Regions from separate parts of the Homo sapiens genome. Here region 1 is linked to region 2. Evidence: fine-mapped expression QTL. Tissue or cell type: naive CD4 T cells. Region 2 holds a variant in brackets; the other region holds the start of a gene. All regions are shown on one strand. Distances are between the middles of the regions.

Region 1 (8,104 bases), 300 kb after region 2:
TCCAGGGTAGTTGGGACTACAGGCACGTGCCACCACGCCCAACTATTTCTTTTTTGTATTTTTAGTAGAGACGGGGTTTCACTGTGTTGGCCAGGATGGTCTCAATCTCCTGACCTCGTGATCCACCCACCTCAGCCTCCCAAAGTGTTGGGATTACAGGTGTCAGCCACCGTGCCCGGCCAATACATAATTCTTTAGTGAGGGGAAAAGGCGGGGGATAGGATTATAGTTGCTTACTGAGACCTGAACTTAAGCCCCAGTCTCTCATATATTTTCAAGAGTGTCTGCCACTGCACACAGGTTCTGCTTGTCACTAACAACCTCTGGTCTAGAAAGATGATTAAAGAAAACAACTACATTCCATAAAAGAAGTCTGTTGGGTTACTGTGTAAAAACCTTGATGGCAGGGCATGGTGGCTCATGCCTGTAACCCAGCACTTTGGGAGGCTCAGGCGGGCGGATCACGAGATCAGCAAATTGAGACCATCTTGGCTAACAAGGTGAAATCCCCCTCTCTACTAAAAAAATACAAAAAATTAGCCGGGTGTGGTGGCACGCACCTGTAGTCCCAGCAACTTGGGAGGCTGAGGCACAAGAATTACTTGAACCTGGGAGGTGGAGGGTGCAGTGAGCTGAGGTGGTGCCACTGCACTCTAGCCTGGGCGAAAGAGTGAGACTCTGTTTAAAACAACCAACCAACCAACCAACCAAAAAAAAAAACACAAACCTTTGATAATCCACAACGCTTTAGGGAGTGAAAAGGTGTTGGGTTTTTCATTGTTGTTATTTTGAAACAATCTCGCTCTGTCGCCAGGTTGGAGTGCAGTGGCACGATCTCGGCTCACTGCAATCTCCAGGCTCCCTGGTTCAAGCAATTCTCCTGCCTCAGCCTCCCAAATAGCTGGGATTACAGGTGTGCGATACCACGACTGGCTAATTTTTGTATTTTTAGTAGAGACAGGGTTTCACTATGTTGGCCAGGATGGTCTCCATCTCCTGACCTCGTGATCCACCCGCCTCAGCCTCCCAAAGTACTGGGATTACAGGCATGAGCCACTGCGCCCACTGGCCTCGTTGTTTTAAAGACAACTATGAGTTAATTCCTTAGAACAGTAGGATTCTGAAATTTTAAGCCTAGTTAGAAATCTACCACGTGACTGTATCAATGCCATCTTAAGGAGTCAGGGATGTGTATGCAGAATGGAAATCTAACTTACTGATTAGCCAGAGTCACCATGACAAAGCAGTTATGATCATGGGATTTGGCTGTACATACTTAGTATAGATAATGGGGATCTTAGGACTGAATTGGCACCATCCCTTGTAGTGATCTGCAACTTTTATTTTCAAACAGTTCCTACTGGCTAAATGACAACTTCAGAGAATGAACACATCTCATCCACAGAGTCAAGAACAGAGCAAGAGCTCAGTAGGTGTCACCTAGAAGGATTATAATACATTGCTGTACACTACTGGGAAATCAATGTAGTTTAACACTGTTCTGCACCCTGCCAAAGGCACCAAGTAAGTACATCACAATAACAAAAATCCATAAAGAGAGCCCAGGAGCTTATCCAAGTCAGTATGGACATAAGATCTTTCTAAGCTTCAATAAATAACGTCAACAATAACCCTGGATCATATGACTAAAGAGATAGAATCTTCACTGACTTTTGACCTTTCTTTCCCCTCATTTTTAAAGCATCCCTTCAACCTTCTTGCAGATAGGTTAAGTACAGTTATCACCAGATCAGAGTTTGTAACAGGTCCATAAAAGGAAGGTACAGCCTTATTGTACTCTTAGAATCATAACTGAACCCCTATTCTCTAATTCCATCTTTGGAAATTGGATGGAGAGATTTTGTCACTGGCAAGGATCCTGTCCCAATTACTCTGTATTGCACACAGGACAGCCTCAAACTGGACAGAGAAACGAGAATTAGTGACAGTGGAATGAGGAAAGCTAGCATGTCTCATCAGCACCTCAGTGGTGGATTACCAACCCATGCCTCAGTTGCCTTCTCTAAAATAATGAGCTCTACCTCTCAGAGATAGAACCAAGTAAGAAGGAAAAACGTGATCGTGCTTAAAAAAGGTAAATGCCCATAAAATGTAAGGTAACTGGCTGGCAAACAAGTTTTCACCGGGTTTCTTTTGGAGGTCCATAGCATTTTACCTTTCCCTCTATTATGCTTAGAACACTGCGCCATCAAAACTTCTTCGGAAAGGTCTTAACCTCGCTTATATTTCAAGAGTACCTTTTTTATTTTATTTTTTAATTTGTTTTTTTTTTTGAGACAAGGTCTCATTTTGTTGCCCAGGCTGGAGTGCAGTGGCACCACTGTAGCTCATTGTCACCTCTATCTCCTGGGCTCAAGCTATCTTCCTGTTTCAGCCTGTGGGGTAGCTGGAACTACCACAGGCCACTATGCCCGGCTCTTTTTTTTAATTTTTATTTTTTAAATAAAGATGGGGTCTCACCATGTTGGCCAGGCTGGTCTTAAACTTCTGGGCTCAAGCGATCCTCCCAAAGTGTTAGGATTACAGGCATGAGCCACTGTGCTTGGCCCATTCCAAGTGTACCTTTAAATCCTCTGAAAATGTATGCAATATTACATGTGATGTGTATTTCCCTGGGAACAGCATCTGTAGACTCGTGAAGTCTGTTCTTGTGGACAGATGCATGCCTGTTCTGTTTTATGATTGTTCACCAGCCCTGTCCCCAAATACACACTTTTATACACGTCTCCTCCCTAAAATATCTAAGAATTACTAGTTTAAACCCTGGGTTCCCTGCAAAGTGGAACTGGTTTTATTTTTTGGACAGCAATCTTGCTCAGTGATTAAGACCTGGCGCTCCAGTGCGTCACAACTAGGTTCCCATGCTGTGTCTCTTTCCAGTGAAATCACTTTGAGCTATTTCACTTCTCAGTACCTCGTTTCCCAGTCTATGAAATGGGCATAGGGTTGTTACAATCAGGTAACACACAGGCTGAGTTGAGTAGTGCCTGACACATGAGGCTCAATGATAACTATTATTACTATTACTTGTCTGGACATTTGCTTCAAAGTAAACAGCGTACAAATGTCATTAATGACTCAAACATAACTAGCTTAGAGTATCTTTTCCTGAAAAGACAGGAGAATGGCCAGGCCAGCAAACTTTTTGCCTCTAGTTTCTTCTGATGAAAAAGGGGCCAGGCGCTCACACCTGTAATCCCAGCACTTTGAGGGGGCCAAGGCAGGAGGATAGCTTGAGACCAGGAGTTCGACAGTAAGACCCCGTGTCTACAAAAAATACAAAAATTAGCCGGGCGTAGTGAAGAGCCCCTGTATTCCCACCTGCTCTGGAAGCTGAGGTGGGAGGATAGCTGGAGTCCCGGAGTTCGAAGCTGCAGTGAGCTGTGATCGCGCTACTGCACTCCAGCCTGGGCGACAGAGAGACCCTCTCTTTAAAAAAAAAAAAAAAAAGCAAGGAGGGGAGGGCTACTTAACAGGTTGTTGTAAGGACCCAACGAGACAACCAAGCAAATTGTTTAGGGCAGTGCCTAACCCAATAGGGGTTGTGGGAATTGTAGTCATCAGCCCTGAGTGCCAAGCCTGGTCCAAGTCCTCCAGCCCCCGGCAGGGTCCAAGAAGATGAGCCAGGGGCCCAAGATGCAGGCCTGTAGGCCTCTTAGATGCCTGAAGATTACGCAACTCCTCCTTTAGCTCCAAACTGGCTTAAAACTCGCCAGTGGGCAACCTCTTCCCCATAAGAGCTCCCCGCGCACGGGCCAAGACAGCAGCCAGACGCTCCCCGCAGGCCCTCACACCGAAGAATGACGCCTGTAAAAGCCAACCCATGTGTTCCGCGCGCTCTCCTCCCATCCCATCCTTTCCACAAGATGAAGGCCCGACGCTTCCCATGTGGAGGCCTCCCTGCTCGCACTCACCAGCCTTCAACTCTGCCACAGTCGCCATTTTTCAACGGCCGCCAGGGCCGCACCGCGGCCCTGCGCACGCGCAGCTCCGCCCCACTCACCCTGCGGCGTGGTCTGTAGCCAATAGGCGCACAGCTCTCGCCCCGCCCACTTCCGCCCCTCTCAGTTTATGAGCTCTGCGGTTGAGTGGGTAGTGAATGTCGACCAGAGACTCCACCAATCAGCGAGCGCTCTCGGAAGGCCCAGTTGAGTGAGACGGCAGGGAGGGCGGGGACTGAGGCAGTGGAGAGCCCTGTGGGGTGCTGCTGGCACCTTAGTGCTTAACTTTAGCCAGCTGAGTTTTTCATTGTCTCTGCAGCCTCAAGTACCAACTGCTAGTAGTTACCACCTATTAACCCTGCGGTTCTCAAACTTGAGCATGAATCCTCATCACCTCCAAGACTTGTTTAAACGGATTGTTTGCTAGTCCTCCCCATAGAGTTTCTGATTCTGTAAATCTGGGGTGAGGCCCTAGGATTTGCATTTCTATCGAGTTCCCAGGTGGTACTGGTACTGCTGGTCGGTCTGGAGATCACACCTCGAGAACCACTGTATTAAGCACTTACTGTGACGCCTTAGCGCATTATTTCCTTATGATCACGCCGTTTTTACAATGAAGGAAACAGAGTCCTCCATCGCTGAAGAGACTTAACCAAGGTCACCAGCCTGTCCTCTTCCACTCGCACTTACACAGTGCATGTAAGGAGTCCAGGAGCTTTTTATGGAACTAACTAATGAAGGAATAAGCTCCAACATCCCATGGAAGTAAAGGAAAAGGAACAGGGGAATAATGTACCCTAAACTGAGTGTGAGGTTGCATGATTCCAGTTGTAATGCCGGTGAGATCCAAACACTTGGCTAAATAATAAACATCGATTAGACGTACACCTAAGAGTGGCCGGGCGCGGTGGCTCACGCCTGTAATCCCAGCACTTTGGGAGGCCGAGGCGGGCGGATCCCGAGGTCAGGAGATCGAGACCATCCTGGCTAACACGGTGAAACCCTGTCTCTACTAAAAATACAAAAAATTAGCCGGGCGTGCTGGCGGGCGCCTGTACTCCCAGCTACTCGGGAGGCTGAGGCAGGAGAATGGCGTGAACCCGGGAGGTGGAGCTTGCAGTGAGCCGAGATGGCACCACTGCACTCCAGCCTGGGCGACAGAGTGAGACTCCGTCTCAAAAAAAAAAAAAAAAAAGTACACCTAAGAGCTGCCAGGGCACGGTGGTTTACGCCTGGAATCCCAGCACTTTGGGAGACTGAGGTAAGGAGTTCGAGAACAGCCTGGCCAGCCTGGTGAAACCCCCTCTGTACTAAAAAAAAAGTACAAAAATTAGCCGGGCGTGGTAGCAGGAGCCTGTAATCCCAGCTACTTGGGAGGCTGAGGCACAAGAATCGCTTGAACCTGGGAGGCAGAGGTTGCAGTGAGATGAGATCGCGCTACTGCACTCCAACCTGGACGACAGAGCGAGACACCGCCTCAAAAAAAAAAAAAAAAAAAAACCACCTAAGAGCAAGGAAACCTCTTTCCGAGGAACTTCCAGCATACTTTTGGTTCCATGCCTATTGTTTTTAAAACTGATACATTGGCCAGGTGCGGTGGCTCATCCCTGTAATCCCAGCACTTTGGGAGGACGAGGAGGGAGGATTGCTTAAGCTCGGGAGTTTGAGATCAGCCTGGGCAATGCAAGACCCCATCTCTCCAAAATAAATACAAAAAATTAGCCGGGCATGGTGGTGCATGCCTGTAGTCCCAGTTACTCCAGAGGCCGAGGATAGAGGATTGCTTGAGCTCAGGAGTTCTAGACCAAGCTGGGCAACATGAGACGCATTTCTACAAAAAAAAAAAAAAATTAGCCAGATATGATGGTGCATGCCAGCTACTCGAGAGGCTGAGGAGAGAGGATCACTTGAGCCTGGACGGCTGATTGTACCACTGCACTCCACTCTGGGCGACAGAGTGAGTCCCTTTCTCAAAAAAAAAAAAAAAAAAAAAAAAAAAAGAAAAGAAAAAGAGAGAAAGAAAAATTGATATATCACAATTATGGGGAGGGACGTGATATTTTGATACACATATACAATGTGTAATTATCAAGTCAAGGCAATTGGGATAAACATCACCTCAAACATTCTTTGTGTTGGAAGCATTACAAGTATTCTAGCTATTTTGAAATATACAATCAATAATTGTTAACTATTTTTTTTAAAGGGAGGGGGAACAGCCTGGGCAGCATAGGGAGAACCTGTCTTTAAAAACGAGCAAACAAGGCCGGGTGCGGTGGTTCACGCTTGTAATCCCAGCACTTTGGGAGGCCTGAGGCAGGCAGATCACAAGGTCAGGAATTCGAGACCAGCCTGGCCAACACAGTGAAACCCCATCTCTACTAAAAATACAAAAATTAGCCGGGCGTGGTGGCAGAGGCCTGTAATCCCAGCTATTCGGGAGGCTGAGGCAGGAAAATTGCTTGAACCCAGGAGGCAGAGGTTGCAGTGAGCCAGGGGTGCAGAGGTTGCACTCCAGCCTGGGGAACAGAGTAAGACTCCGACTCAAAACAAAACAAAACAAAACAAAAGAGCAAACAGCCAGGCACGGTGGCTCACGCTTGTAATCCCAGCACTTTGGGAGGCCGAGGAGGGCAGATCACCTGAGGTCAGGAGTTTGAGACCAGCCTGGCCGACATGGTGAAACCCCATTTCTACCAAAAATACAAAAATTAGCTGGGCATGGTGGCAGGCATCTGTAATCCCAGCTACTCGGGAGGCTGAGGCAGGAGAATCGTTTGAACCTGGGAGGTGGAGGTTGCAGTGAGCCGAGATCACGCCGCTGTGCTCCAGCCTGGGCGACAAGAGTGAAACTCCGTGTCAAAAAAAACCAAAACGAACAAACAAACAAAAAAACCGAGCAAACAAAACAAAAAATTAGCCTGGCATGTGTCCCTGTAGTCCGAGCTACTCGGGAGGCTGAGGCAGGAGGATTGCTTGAGCCTAGGAGGTGGAGGCTACAGTGAGCCATGACCATAACACTGCATTTCTAGCCTGGTGACAAGGGGAGATGCCTTTTCTTTCCCTTCCTTCCTTCCTTCCTTCCTTCTTTCCTTCCTTCCTTTCCTCCCTCCTCTCTCTCTCCTTCCTTCCTTCCTCCCCGCCCTTTCCCTTTCCTTCCTTCCTTCCCTCCCTCCCTCCCTCTTTCTCTCTTTCTCTTTCTTTCTTTCTTTCTTTTCTTTCTTTCTTTCTCTCTCTCTTTCCTCTTTCTCTCTTACTTTTTCTTGAGACTTAAAAAAAAAGGGGGGCCAGGCAGAGTATCTTGACCTAGAGTCTAGGATAATGCTCTTTAAACTGCTGGTTAACCAAATAGTAGGTTTTGAAATCTATTTATTAGTAGATCCCCATGAGTACATTTTCAGTGAAATGGAATGTAACAAATAGAAAACATAGAAGTATGGTTTTCTAGAACTTTCCTTTCAGGTACACATGTGTGTTCTGGTACCTGTTGTATTTCTTAAAGTGATCAGCCATCAGAAAAGTTTGAAAGTGATTGTAACCTAGAGGAATCTCTTCCTATTCCAAACTGGATTAATTTTTGACTGGATTAATTTTTGATTATGGGACACATATCTGTTCTGTAACCTTGAAAAGGTCCTATCTTGTTTCTCTACTCTGTAAAACCACAGTGACTGAATACCTGGCCAGCATTTCAAGAGATTTTTGGGGATTAACTAAATTCCATAGGTGGTATTTTTAAGTCCCTCAGAAAAAGCACTCCTGTGGTGTTATGATATAGGTATTGATTTTCATCTCCACGATTCCTGGCATCTAACTCCCATTCACCTCATTATAATGTTGAGGCACTTTAGGCCTCAGGAAACAGAATCTCCCTCTCTGATCTTCTCCTGTCCACCTCTGACCTGCCCCAAGCAGGACTCTAATCTGACTGTGGGTCAAAAGACCCTCATTCCAGAAAGGGTTCTGCCTGCTACCCTCAAGGAAGAAATGCTGCACAGAGAGCCCAAGAAAAGTCTGAGCAGACAGGCTTTGCTGGGTTTAGATCAGGCACTTTCTGTCCAATCAGATTTCTTTCTTTTTTTTTTTTTTTTTTGAGACGGAGTCTTGCTCTGTCGCCCAGGCTGGAGTGCAGTGGTACAGTC
Region 2 (8,088 bases):
CTGTTTATCCAAACACCAGGAAAGGTCCTCCCTCAAAAAAGCATATCTCCACTTCTCTCTAGCTGTATCTAACCCACCGTGTGAATGAACTGGGAGAGGGGCATGCTCCCCAGCTGTGTGTAGTCGTGACTTCTCAACAATCTAGCACCATGTCGGACACGTTCCCCATCCACCCTCCTAGCTCTGCTCTCAGAGCTAGGCACATGGGCACAGGTCCCCTCCCGTCTGTCCTCTCCCAGCAACTGTGCCCTGGAGGGCTCCACATGGCCCCCGTGTCTCTCGGGCACCACCCATATAGCAGTCCCAGAGGGCCCATCTGTAAAGATCGAGCTTGTGTGTGGTGTCGTGGTCACATCTCCCGCTTCCCCCCATCCTGTGTCTGGGCACAGTTCACATCAGGACAGCGTCCATTGTGCTCTCAGTCTGCCTCAGGTGTGTGCCTGGAGGGGGCCTGGACTGGCATGGATCCAGTGTGCAGAAGAGCCAGCAGGGAACCGGAAGCTCTGATGTCAAGGCCAGAGCAGTTGAGAATGGGACCCAGAGTAGATGCTGACCTGGGCACTCCACCATTCCGGGGCCACCACAGAGATGCCAGCAGGATGCCACTTTGCCAGCCCGACACACGGACCTTTGTAAAGAACAGCAACAGGCAGGAGAGGCAGCGTGTGACCAGATTGTGTCCCGTCATTGGGTGGCATATGTTAACTAGCTGCCAAACAACTTCAACCCGTGTAATTCATGTACATTTGCAACAGCCAGCCCGGTACAGCCTGTGTGACTTCTCTGTATGTGTGTGTGTGTCGTGACCAGCCTAAGTAGTTAGCATAACTCAAGATGCTGATGTGCAGTCACCCATCAGAGAAAATAAAAATGGAAACCACGTTCACAGCATTTTAAAAGTTTTTACTTTTTTTCTTGATTATGGAAGTAATCCATGTACATAGTAAATCATTTTAAAAGTACAAAAAGTATGAAGAAGTTTGTCTTAAAAAAAAAAAAAATTATTCCTCCAACTAGAGACCACTCTGATGTTTCGACGTTTTAAAAAAGTCTTTTTTTGTGCATTTTTTCATCGTTGACATCATATTGTGGTATCATTTATAACCAGTTTTTTCCTACTTATTATACCACCATCTTCCACATCATTAAAAGCTCTTTGTAAACATTAAACACTCTTCATAAATCATGCCAATGTCTGTTTAGTAATCCATCTTGTGGATGTACTGTAATTCATCTAATCATTTCCTCACTATTGGATGTGTAGACTGGTTCTAGGTTTTCTTATAAATAGTGTCTTGGATTAGCCAGGCATGGTAATGGGTGCCTGTAATCCCAGCTACTTGGGAGGCTAAGGCAGGAGAATCACTTGAACCCAGGAGGCAGACGTTGCGGTGAGCCGAGATCGTGCCATTGCACTCCAGCCTGGGTGACAGAGCAAGACTCCATCTCAAAAAAAAACAAAAAAAGTGTCTTGGGCCAGGCGCTGAGGCGGGAGGATTGCTTGAGTCCAGGAGTTCGAGACCAGCCTGGGCAACATGGCAAAACCCTGTCTCTACTAAAAATACAAATAGCTGGGCATATGCGGTGGCGCGGGCCTGTGATCCCAGCTACTTGGGAGGTGGGAGGATTGCTGGAGCCTGGGAGGTTCCAGCTGCAGTGAGCCATGATCACACCACTGTATTCCAGCCTGGGCAACAGAGCAAGATCGCACCCCCTGGAAAAAAAAAATAGTGTCTTGATAAACATCTAGGGGGATAAGGTTTCATCTGAATTTTTTATTTTTTCCTTAAGATAAACTCCTAGAAGTAAAATTATTGGGCCATTCATAAGTAGCATTTTCAAAATATTTGTAAATTGGCTGGGTGCGGTGGCTCGCATCTGTAATCCCAGCACGTCGGGAGGCAGAGGCAGGCTGATCACTTGAGGCCAGGAGTTCGCGACCAGCCTGGCCAATACAGAGAAACCCCATCTCTACCAAAAAATACAAAAATTAGCTGGGTGTGGTGACTTGTGCCTGTAATCCCAGCTACTCAAGAAGCTGAGGCAGGAGAATCTCTTGAACATGGGAAGCAGAGGTTACACTGAGCTGAGATTGCGCCACTGCACTCCAGCCTGGGTGACACAGCGAGACTTCGTCTCGAAAAAAAAAAAAAAATTTGTAGATCAAAAGGTCTTTGGTTGGACAGGCCCTCCCAGCAGGCTGCTAGACCCCAGTCCTCCCACTCTGCGTGTTCGCGGCTTTGGTCTGCACACCACTTCCCACCATTCTGATGCTGAAAAGGGTCCCTTGGGCTACTCAGTGCCACCACAATGGCCTCAGAGGACCCCGTGTCCTCCTTCACCAACCTAGACCAATCATGAAGCCAGACTCTTCGTGTACTGGGGATGCCATAATGAATGACCTTCTACTGGGTGACTTAAAACAGTGGAACCGTCTCCTTTCACAGTCCTAAAGGCCAGAAGCCTGAAATCAACCTGTCTGCGGTGCTCTGCTCCCTCTGTGGGGAAGAATCTTCTTTTGCCTCTTGCAGCTCCTGGTGGCTCCTGGCACCTTGGCAGTTCCCTGGCTGCACCACTCCAGTCTTCACCTCTGTCTCCACGTGGCCGCCTCCGCTGTATATGTGCCTCTGTGCACCCTCTCATCTTAAAAAGACACCAGTCATTGGAGTGAGGGCCACCCGAATGCAGTATGATCTCATTTGGACCCTTTCCTTAATTACTTCTGCAAAAACCCTCTTTCCAACCAAGGTCACATTCTGAGGCTCCACGTAGACATGCATTTGGGGAGGACCCAATTCCACCCACCACAGACCCCTCCCGCTCCAACGTGCAGTGAAAACTCAGGCTGCAAAGGGCCCACCGCCCTCTTTTCCCCATAAAAAATGTGGGTCAAGGCTGGGCACTGTGGATCATGCCTGTAATCCCAGCACTTTGGGAGGCCGAGGTGGGAGGCTCACTTGAGGTCAGGAGCTCATGACCAACTTGGCTAACATGGTGAAACCCCATGTCTACTAAAAATACAAAAATTAGCAAGTGTGGTGGCACATGCTTGTAATCCCAGCTACTCGGGAGGCTAAGGCAGGAGAATCGGTTGAAACCAGGAGGCGGAGGTTGCAAAGAGCCGAGATCGCACCATTGCACTCCAGCCTGGGCAACAGAGTGAGACTCCATCTCGGAAAAAAAAAAGGGGGGGCTTGGGGGGTCCGGGCGTGGTGGCTCAAGCCTGTAATCCCAGCACTTTGGGAGGCCGAGGCGGGCGGATCACGAGTTCAGGAGATCGAGACCATCCTGGCTAACACGGTGAAACCCCATCTCTACTACAAATACAAAAAATTAGCCGGGCGTGGTGGTGGACGCCTGTAGTCCCAGCTACTCAGGAGGCTGAGGCAGGAAAATGGCGTGAACCCGGGAGGCGGAGCTTGCAGTGAGCAGAGCTTGCGGTGAGCAGAGATTGTGCCACTGCACTCCAGCCTGGGCGACAGAGCGAGACTCCATCTCAAAAAAAAAGGGGAGAGGGGAGTGGGGGGGTCAGCGAGGTCTGACCTCAGGCCAGTTATACAGCAGTCACTCACAGATCCAACGAACCAGAGGAGATCAAACCCTCATCAAAATCCTGCCTCTGGTACTTCCGCTAAGCTCTGGGTACACCTACTGTATGTTCCTGTAATTCCTACTGATTTTTTTAAAAAAAGAAAACATTAAAAAATCCAATTTATTTAAGCTGTCACAGACGCTTCCAGATTACCAGGGCCACCTTCCAAGCTGGGAAACCTTGCAGACTGTGGGGTCCTGCACACCTAGACTTGCTCCTTTTAGAAGCCATGGAGGAGGTTGATAATGGGAATAACATTTATTGTAGCTTATCTCTATGCCTTGAGCAATGTGCTCACACTGGCTGGTTCCCTCCTCACATCAGCCTGATGAGTCAGATCCTGTTATTACTTCTCACTTTACAGATGAGGAAGTAGCAGTAAATCCATTACCCTTTTCAAGCGGAGGTTGCAAGAGGTTGCAAGCGGAGGCAGAATAAACACTTGAAACAGTGAGTCAGATCCTGTTATCACTTCTCACTTTACAGATGAGGAAGTGGCAGTAAATCCACTGCCCACGGTCCCAGGGGTTGTTAGTGACAGAGTCATCATTCATCTCCCTCCCTCCCCACCACTGTAGCCCCAATTGTTCTTTCTCTTCCCATCGGAGGGATTTAAACAGGTCTCTCCCATTTAAAAGCAAACAGGGCTGGACACGGTGGCTCACGCCTGTAATCCCAGCACTTTGGGAGGCCGAGGCGGGCAAATCACGAGATCAGGAGATTGAGACCATCCTGGCTAACATGGTGAAAACCCATCTGTACTAAAAATACAAAAAAATTACCTGGGCATGGTGGTGGGCGCCTGTGGTCCCAGCTACTTGGGAGGCTGAGGCAGGAGAATCGCTTGAACCTGGGAGGCAGAGGTTGCAGTGAGCCGAGATTGCGCCACTGCACTCCAGTCTGGAGACACAGCAAGACTTTGTCTCAA[A/AACACACACAC]ACACACACACACACACACACACACACACACACACAACACAACACAACAACAACAACAACAAAAAAAGTGTCCTCTTCCTTTTAGAGAATTTAAAAAACAGGGTGAAACCCCATGTCTACTAAAAATACAAAAATTAGCAAGTGTGGTGGCACATGCTTGTAATCCCAGCTACCCGGAAGGCTAAGGCAGGAGAATCGGTTGAAACCAGGAGGCGGAGGTTGCAAAGAGCCGAGATCGCACCATTGCACTCCAGCCTGGGCAACAGAGTGAGACTCCATCTCGGAAAAAAAAAGTGGGGGCTTGGGGGTTCCGGGCATGGTTGACTGTGTGACTATATTATATCTATACATAATATATAGATATATATCTATATATAATATATAGATATCTATATATTATATATAGATATATATCTCTATTATATATAATAGATATATCTATTTATATATAGATATTATAGAGACATCTATATCTATATCTATATATAATATCTATATTATATTACGCCTGTAATCCCCGCACTTTGGGAGGCCGAGGCAAGTGAACCACTTGAGGCCAGGAGTTTGAGACGAGCCAGAGCAACATGGCAAAACCCCGTCTCAAAAAAAATTAGCCAGGTGTGGTGGCAGCATCTGTAATCCCAGCTGTTCGGAGGCTGAGGCATGAGAATCGCTTGAACCCGGTAGGAGGTTGCAGTGAGCCGAGATCGTGCCACTGCACCCCAGTCTGGGCGATAGAGTGAGACTCTGTCTCAAAAAAAAAAAAAATGTATTTCCTGATTCTTGCCACACCTGCCCTTGATGCATCAGACTCTGGCTGCTGAAATACCAAGGGCGGCGACCCTGCAGCCCCAGTGTGGATTTGTCTGCACTTGCTGATACCAGAAACTGCAGTGGGGGCAGGTGGGTGGTAGGAGCGGGGGTTCCCTCATGCCCAGGCCCTGCACCTGGGAAGCCTTTGGAGGCCATCACATGAGCTGCCTGAGGCGGATGGAAGAGACGGTGCCAAGCAGGCCCAATATGTTCCCTGCTGGCCCTGGTACTGCTCCCCTGCGGATGCTCCTGGTTGGTTCACCACCTCGTGCGGAGTGAGGAGCTGAGCAGCCCAGCCACTGAGCAGGATTTCCCTCTAAGAACGGCCCCTTCCACCCTGCAATGCCTTCTTCCTCTGCACCTCAGCTCCCCCACTTCCAAGGCGTTCCTTCCCGGAACGTGTGTATTCTTCTCTTCATCTTGCTAAGGAAAGTTCTGGCTCTTGGTGCTCTGGCTTGGCACCTTCTAAGCTCTCTAGCCCTTTTCCCCCCGCCCCCCCCCCCCCCAAAAAAAAGCGTTCTCAGCCAGGCGTGGTGGCTCATGCCTGTAATTCCAGCACTTTGGGAGGCTGAGCCCAGAGGATCACTTGAGCTCAGGAGTTCAAAACTAGCCTGGCCAACATGGTGAAACCTCATCTCTACTAAAAATACAAAAATTTGCCAGTGTGATGGTGCACATATGTAATCCCAGCTACTCGGGAGGCTGAGACAGGACAATCGCTTGAACCTGGGAGGTGGAGGTTGCAGTGAGCTGAGATTATGCCACTGCACTCCAGCCTGGGTGACAGAGTGAGACTGTCTCAAAAAACCAAAAAACAAAACAAAAAACCACTCAGGCTTAGCCATTTCTCTGGGGTCTTCATTTCCTTATGAAGACTCTCGCAAAACTGGTATGAAGTAAAATTTGTTTGCTTTTTTCCTATTAATGTCTTTGTCAGTTTAAGGCCCAGCCAGGGACACTAGGAGAATTGAGGAAGTTTTGCCGCCCACCGCCCCCCCCCCCAGCAATGGGGACAGCAGGTGGGTGGAGGCCGCTGAGGGCTTCTGCGCCATGACTCACCCTCTGCCCATGGAAGCAGCTAGAAAGTGAAGGTGAATCCCAAAGCGCAACGCTCCTTCTGGCAAAGGGAACAGAGAGGGAACAGATCTTCTTCAATCAGCGCAGCCCCCTCTGCTACGGACAGGTCTGCTCTCCCCCAGACAGCTGTCTTCTAGGCCCCCACCTCTGAATCACCTTCCTAGGTGGGAAACAAACAAAGATAAATGCAAAGCCACCGTTCCAGCCCCAGTCCACACCTAACAAGACCTCCTGACGCCGCTCAAAAGGGGCACGATGGCTACTCAACTTTTTCTGCACAAATTTGCCATCGTGAAATGTTTGGAAAGGTCTTTAGCAGCTTTTAACATTGCTGAACTTGAAAAAAATGTCATCAAGAAGCAATTTACTCAAGTCTCTTCTGGGTCCTTTTAAATTCTTGCCAGAGGGTGCTGGTGGCAGGGGTGACGGGGTAATGGCGGTCTCAGGGGATGGGAGGGCTTCACAACTGTATCTGTGGAATAACTCTTTTCCAAATTGGCTTATTCAAAAAGCATGCTTAGCAGTGACCAAAAACGAGACAGCGGGCACGCTGGATTTCTTTCACAAGAAGAGAGAGCCTAGGAATTAATAGAGTTTTCTAACTGGAAGGTTTTTGTGGTTACTGTATTTTCCCACATGTAATTATAAGCTGGAACAAAGGCTGGAAAACTTGGAGGATCCTGACGACGAAGGGCCCACCATCCAGCCACCTGCTTCGGCGTGTGCTGAGTTTAAAAGGCCTCTAAGATGTAGACGGATTTACTCTCCACCTCACAATTCTATTTCCAGAAGGGGAGAGAAGTTGAGGAGACCCAAAATGAAAGATGGCAGAACTGTATTGGTTTGTAATTCCTCCCCACAGACAGACAGACAGACAAAACCACTCACTTGGGAAACTCAAAATAGATGCTCGCTTGTAAAGTTTATTGACAACTGTTTGGTCCCAACACACAAAACAGCACTTGAACCACAACAAAAGTGTTCAAACAAAGTAGACAACTAAGAAAAACATCTCTTTCCCCCAAACCCAATCCAAAACAAACAGTGCAAGATGGGAAAGGGGGTTTTGGTGATAACTTTTGTCATTTTTTTAAACAGATAAATTTAATCCGGTATATCTTTCCACCCAGAAATAAAGAATTACATTGTCTTAATGCTCAAACATCATTTTACCACATCATTTAATTAAGCCTCTGGATAAAAAAATAGATAGCAATTGGACTGGCCATTGTGGAGTACATTATGAACACAATGTGCTTCCGAAGTCTTCTCTCTCATTTTCAGACAGCAATTGTTAAGAGTCACACACACGTCCCAGACCTAAGCAGCAACTCCAGTGAATGGTACTCAGACACACTCACGGGACAGCACAGAACTTGATTCTTCTTTGTCTGTTGCCCAAAGAACCTGTTCTTTGAGTCTGTTCCAGGTGACTTGTAATGATACCTCTTACGGTTTTAAAGTCCACCACTCTTTACATGCTAGCAGAACTGAAGTCCAAGCGTGCAAACTCAGCCTTATGAAATCTTAGAATAAGGCAACTGATGTTCTCAACACCAATTATTATTACTTTGTTTAAAAGCTCCTTTAAAAAAAATTGCACATTTGCATTTCACTTCCTGTAACACTATGTCTGTAGAGGAAATGCCTTCAGGAGGATTCGGAGAGTGCCATAATA

Alleles and levels. Alleles are on the strand shown, and positions count from the first base shown. SD is a standard deviation of normalised expression in the study named.
As copies of AACACACACAC replace A in region 2, the expression in naive CD4 T cells of the gene that starts at base 3,981 in region 1 goes up (large effect, 2.0 SD a copy in Schmiedel 2018).

Evidence for each region. PIP is the estimated chance that this variant, and not a neighbour inherited with it, causes the effect.
Region 1: CEP20 starts here. The variant in region 2 is fine-mapped to the expression of CEP20 in naive CD4 T cells (Schmiedel 2018, PIP 0.95).

The regions. Positions count from the first base shown.
Region 1 is chr16:15,884,623-15,892,726 of GRCh38, forward strand. It overlaps CEP20 (centrosomal protein 20), which reads right to left and starts at 3,981. Exons shown (of 5, transcript NM_144600.4): 1 at 3,936-3,981. The coding sequence starts at 3,963.
Region 2 is chr16:15,587,074-15,595,161 of GRCh38, forward strand. It overlaps MPV17L-BMERB1 (MPV17L-BMERB1 readthrough), which reads left to right. Exons shown (of 6, transcript NM_001414674.1): 6 at 1-1,186. BMERB1 (bMERB domain containing 1) reads left to right here. Exons shown (of 6, transcript NM_033201.3): 6 at 1-1,186. It overlaps MARF1 (meiosis regulator and mRNA stability factor 1), which reads right to left. Exons shown (of 27, transcript NM_014647.4): 27 at 7,314-8,088. Among named protein-coding and RNA genes, the nearest start is that of MIR6506, 20 kb to the right of the region's middle. RefSeq lists enhancers at 11-512, 3,453-4,652, 3,999-4,293. The variant A/AACACACACAC (reference allele first, on the strand shown) is at 4,521.